2 separate regions of the Homo sapiens genome follow, and region 2 is linked to region 1. Evidence: fine-mapped expression QTL. Tissue or cell type: whole blood. Region 1 holds a variant in brackets; the other region holds the start of a gene. Each region is shown on its reference strand, or each on the opposite one.

Region 1 (2,909 bases):
GTCAAACAGGCTGAGCAGGAAGCAGGGGCTGCTCCAGTCAAGGGCATGAGGCTGGTGCCTGGGTCCCATTCAAACTCCAGCAGCGGGGCTTGGATCAGGCAGCTTTATTCCAAAGGGCAGCTGAGCTCACCTCCCAGTGAGGGTCTGGGCTGTGAGGGCCCAGGTGGCAGGCAGGGGTGGGGCAAGGACCCTGGAGTCAGGACTTCCCCACCTTTTGGCTTACAGTGGCAGCAGGCCCACCTGGCAGTCTCCAGGGCTCTGAGGGTCCCCTCCGATGGGAGCACCTTCCATTCCCAGATCCCAAGTTAGACCAGGGGCTTCCGAAGCTGGAATCTGCTCTCTGGAGGCAAGGCTGCCCAAACAGCCTCTGTACAGAGTGGGGCGCACCTCAGACACTCCTCGGGATGTAGAACCAGCATTCTTGCTGCTGAGCCACTGCCTTGCATTAGGCAGCAGTGGAGGAAGGGGACGGAGGAGAGAGAATTGGGAGGCAGAAGGGCTGGGTGTGGGCCTGGGTCCTCAGGGGACGTCTTGACCCCCAGCTGCTGGCACTTCTCCATCCTCCTGCCATCACTGGAGCAGACATCAGGGACGAGACAAGATGCCACCTCCTGCCACCACAGGGCCTGCTCTCTCCCCCACCCCCCGCCAGAATACTTGTCCCCCTGCTTGGCAGTTGCCCTGGGCTCTCTGAGTCCAGGAGGTGGGCCCTGCTTTGCAGGGGGGCAGTTCCTCAGGTCACCACTTGCTGGATCCAGCTGATCACACCTGTGATGCGGGTGTAGACGCCGAAGTAGTTAGGCCGGCCACAGCCCAGGCCCCAGCTGACCAGCCCCGCCAGGAACCAGCGGCCACTGAGTGCCTTGCACACCAGCGGACCACCTGAGTCACCCTGAAAGGGGGAAAGGAGAAAGGACTGAAGCAGGGTAAGGGCACCCCCTTTTCCAGGTGAAGAGCCATAGGGATTAAGTCCTGACTGTTGGGAATTGACTGGGTGCCAGAGTCACGTTCAGTCTTAAAGCTCTGCTTTCCCCTCGCCTGCTAAATGGAGAGAGCCCAAGCCAGCCCTCCCCGGCCTCCAGCCAGCCTGGGACCTCCTGGAACTGTGGCTGTGTCCCCACGCCCCCACTCTGCCTCCGCCTCCCTTCTGTGGCTGACACCCCTTTCTTCTTCCATGCATCCACCTCACTGTGGGACCCTGGGCCTAGTGCCTTGTGGTGGGCAAGGAGCAGAACTGGGTTTGAGCCTAACACCTGCCCATCACAGCATCTCTTCTGATCTGTGGCTCTGCAACCTTGGGCAAGCTCCTCAACCTTTCTAAGCCCCAGTCTCCTCTTCTGTAAAGTAGGGGTGGCCATCACCACCTTGCTGGGAGGATGGGAGGCTTCAGCAGGCTGATGTGAGCAAAGGGCCAGACCCTGGTGATGTGGGCAGCATCCTTTCTCCCTCCTCTCTCCCTCCCATGCCCGGGGGACTCACCTGACAGGCATCCTTCTTGCCCTTGCGGTAGCCGGCACACAGCATGCGTGGCGTCACCTGGTAGCGATAG[A/G]CCTCGCTGCACAGGTCCTGTGGGATCAACTGCACATCCACTTTCTGCAGAGCGTTGCTGATGGGGCCTGTCCGTGGTCAAGGGCAGAAGTGAGATCTCAGGAGCCTGGAGCCCCTGTTCTCTATTCTCCCTAACATTATTCCCTTTGCATCTCAGGAGCCTACTTCTCTCCTGCTCTGCCCACCCTTACCCCTGCTAGGGTCGCACCTGCCCCTCTGCCTCCCTGTCACTTTATTCTAGCTCTTTCTCTGTGGGGTTCATGGTGACAGCCCCCGACCAAAGCCCATGTGGAGGGCCGGGCACGGTGGCTCATGCCTGTAATCCCAGCACTTTGGGAGGCTGAGGCGGACGGAACACCTGAGGTCAAGAGTTTGAGACCAGCTTGACCAACATGGAGAAACCCTGTCTGTACTAAAAATACAAAATTAGCTGGGTGTGGTGGCACATGCCTGTAATCCCAGTTACTCAGGAGGCTGAGGCAGGAGAACCGCTTGAACCCGGGAGGAGGGGGATCCGAGCCGAGATCGCGCCATTGCACTCCAGCCTGGGCAACAAGAGCGAAACTCTGTCTCAAAAAAACAAAAAAAAGAAAAAAGAAAAAAGCCCGTGTGGATGAGTGTCTTCCTCCAGCTTCTTGTCCCCCACCTCTGTCTGCTGAGGCACCTCTGGGCTCTGGCTGGCTCCTCGCTGCTCTGTTACAGCACCTGCAGATGTCTCCGAAGCCCACATCTGATCCCTTCATGGTTTCCTTAGAACTCTGCAGTGCCCCAACTCTGCAGTCTGCCCTAGCGCTTCTCCACGAGGGCTGCATATCACAGTCCCCCGGGGAGCCTTGATACGCAGTTTTTCTTGAAACTCCCCGTATGGTTCTAAGGTGCAGGTAGGAGGGAGAACTCCTGGCCTAAGATCCTTATGCTGGCCGGCAAGGCCCTGTCTGCCATTCTGGTTGCTCCTCGCCCAAGGCCCTGTCTGCCATTCTGGTTGCTCCTCGCCCAGGCACGCCTGCCCCCCACCTCAGCCCCTCTGGCAGGCTGCGGATGTTCTCACATCTTCCTGTCTTGGCACCTGTGTCTTCACCTGAATGTCTTTCCCCTTTGTCTGAATGTTGCCAACTCATCTTCCAGGCCTCAGCTTAAACAACCCTCCCCTGGAAGCCTCCCCTGACCCTAGCTGGGCAGGAGCCTCCTCTGTGTCTCCACTGTTCCTGCATCTCCCCATCCATGTCAGCTCTTACCACTGTCTGTCTCCCCCGAGAATGTTCTCTCTTCATCCTTATGTACCCTTCCCCTAACCCCACGCCTGGTACGTACTTGGTGCTCAGAAAGTGTCATTGAGTGACTGAATGAGTGAAGGAATAGTG
Region 2 (2,909 bases), not on the chromosome of region 1:
GTAACTACAGTGGAATTTCAGGTACTGTTGAATATTCATTTACTCTACCATTCAATAACTTATGTACCTAATGTGTGATAATGCTTGCCAGGCATCTTCTTAAAACAATACTTTTAACCAAAGAGATGATGGTGAAATTTGAGACCAAGTAACAGATCATTACTGAAAGTTTTTCCCTACGACTTTAAAATCCTCTCTTGTGTCAGCACCCAATCTGTACTCCCAGAGGTGAAAAGGGCCAACTGCAACTCTACCCCAGCAGACAGCCAGAAAACACTCATTGCAGCATTCCTTGTCCCCCACCCCCCCACCCCTTTTGTGGCCTGCTTTGCAAAAGTCAATTAGGTCTGGAAGGGAAGTGGTAATTTCTCTTCAGGAGTTGGAAACATCAGGCCTTACTTCTCTTCCTAGTACCCCTTTCCCACCATGAAAGAATCATACAGAACTTTAGATAACTGTAATCAGAGAATCAGAAATTCTTAGAAACAGGAAAATTTAGAAGATCACAAAATCAAAACTAGAAAGGGTGGTGGAAATTACAGGCCAAGCCTTTTTTTCAGAGAGTGAATGACTTGCCTAGGGTCTCACAGTGAATTAGGATGAGAATAGAAATCTGTTTACTTTCTGTATAGTGACACTACATTCCTCTTCCACTTTCTTCACTTATTTCTGCTAATTATTCATCTCTCAATTCCCCAAATCTCTCCTTACCCAATTCATCATTCCCATCACCCCCACATCCTCTTAGTTTCCCTCCCTAGCTCTTCCCCCACCCCTAGGCTCCCCATGGGCTCTGACCCACTGAGCTCTGCTGTCAGCCCAGCAGGTAGAGGGAGTCAAAGGGAGAGAGGAATGGGGAATTGCAGGAAGAAATATTAAGCCATCGTTCTTGATAGAGAGGAAGAGAGAGACAGAAACACAGAGACGGAGAGATACAAAGCCGAGGAAAGAGACAAAAAGGGGGAGAGAAAGAAATTTAGAGAAAAAGATAGTTAGAATTCAGAGGGAAAAATAAGAGAAAGCAAGAGTGTCAGAGAATGATGAAATGAAATGAATGATCTTGAAAACTAACAAAAGAAAGTAACGAAGGGAAAAAGAGAGAAAAAAGCTGAAAATGAGGAAAGACAGAAAGAGACATGGGAGATAAAAAGAAAATGAAAAAGAGACAGATTCTAAGAAACAAACAAAGGAAAAAGTCAGATCTACTCAGACCAGAGAGTCAGTGTGTACAGCCCTGAGAGACCAGCTGGCAGACCAGAGATAGGGTGCCAGGCTGAAAGCAGCTCTTACCTGTTGCCCTGCACTGAGGACGAACGAATGACAGGTGGGTACTTGGGTTAGGACCTGGCATTTATCCCTTCTCCTCTGACTCAGCCCCACCCACCCTGCCTTCTGCCGGCCTGGCCCTGCATTGGCCCCAAAGGTATCTCAGTCCCTTCCTTGCTAGAGATAAAACCCAAAGTAGCCCCTCCCTCTAGTGTACCCCCTCCCCCAGCTCTGGCTCTTCCCTATTTTCTTCTCTCTATAGGACAGTAAAATTAGCTCATTTGGGCTTTGGAATCAGACCATCCACATAGAGCTGGGATACCTTGAGCAAAACCACCTCTCTGACTATAGATCTCCTCAACTATAAAAGGAGGGCAATAAAACCCAGAAGTGACTGTGGCACAAGTTGGGAGGGCTCTGGAGTCAGACCTAGAATACAGTGTTGTGCTTATGAGCTCAAACAGTCAGCTTCCACAGACTAGATCCCCGGTTGTTGTAACAATTTGGTAATATCATGTATGGAAAACGCATACCACAGTGCCTGGCCCAAATAAATAACACCTACTGTTGACTGAGTGCTTACAATGCACCAGACCCTTCACTAAGTGCTTTACATGAATTAATTTAGCCACATAAGGACCTTAAAAGATAGGTACTATTATCCCTATGTTACAGATGAAGAAACTGAGGCTCAGAGAGGTGAGGTAACTTGTTGATAATTACCCAACTAGAAAGTACAGAGCCCGCCTATGAACCTAGGCAATGTAGTTACAGAACCCACACTCTTCTCTTCCTCTCATAATATACAATTAAAAATGTGAAGTTCTCTGTCTTATCTTTTCTATTACCTTCTCCTCCCTTTTTCATTTTCTTCCCCTTTTGTCACTCTCTTTTTCCCCTTCCCTTATCAATCCTAAGGCAGCAGGACCATGTTATAACCAGACAATTTCATCTTTAGAGCAGATTGTCATCATTAATATTATATTTACATAAATAAGACCATAGTCTACATATTGATTTGCAATTTCTTTTTTTTGTTTGTTTTTCATTCAACCATATGCCAATATACCATGGAGGTTACAAAATCTGAATGCACTGTAATTTATTTAAACACTCCCTTATTGATATAAATTTAGGTTATTCCCAAGGATTTTCCCCCCTCCATTATGATTAATGTTGCAATGAACATCTTTTGGCATTTGTGAGAGCATTTTTTTAGAGGGTGGCATCCTAAAATATAAGCATTCCTGGATCTAAAGGTAATAGACATTTAAAGTTTTTGATACTGCCAATTTGTCCTATACATGTGTTATACACCCCTCCCCACCCAGTGGTGTATAAGAGTAAATGTGTATCTATTTTCTCACAAACTCACCAATACCATTTGTTATTTTCAATTTTTAAAATATTTGTTAATCTTATAGGCACTAAAAATGGTATATCAGTGTTGCTTTGATTTGCTTTTCTTTCATTATTAATGAGATTGGGTGTCTTTTCATGTTTCTTTATCAGTTGTCTATTTCTCTTCTGAGTGGTCTACTTTTTGCCCATTTTGGGGGTGGGTTGGCAGTAAAATATAGTGGACTAAAAGCATGCACTCTGGAGTCAGACTCACCCAAGTCACCAAGTCACCAACACCTTAG

The links. PIP is the estimated chance that this variant, and not a neighbour inherited with it, causes the effect.
Region 2: it holds the start of ALAS2, and the variant in region 1 is fine-mapped to the expression of ALAS2 in whole blood (TOPMed, PIP above 0.99).

Annotation. Positions count from the first base shown.
Region 1 is chr22:37,065,347-37,068,255 of GRCh38, forward strand. It overlaps TMPRSS6 (transmembrane serine protease 6), which reads right to left. Exons shown (of 18, transcript NM_001374504.1): 17 at 1,480-1,616; 18 at 90-892. The coding sequence ends at 734. Among named protein-coding and RNA genes, the nearest start is that of KCTD17, 15 kb to the left of the region's middle. The variant A/G (reference allele first, on the strand shown) is at 1,550.
Region 2 is chrX:55,029,652-55,032,560 of GRCh38, forward strand. It overlaps ALAS2 (5'-aminolevulinate synthase 2), which reads right to left and starts at 1,326. Exons shown (of 11, transcript NM_000032.5): 1 at 1,291-1,326. It also overlaps a transcript of PAGE2B not described here. RefSeq lists an enhancer at 1-1,331.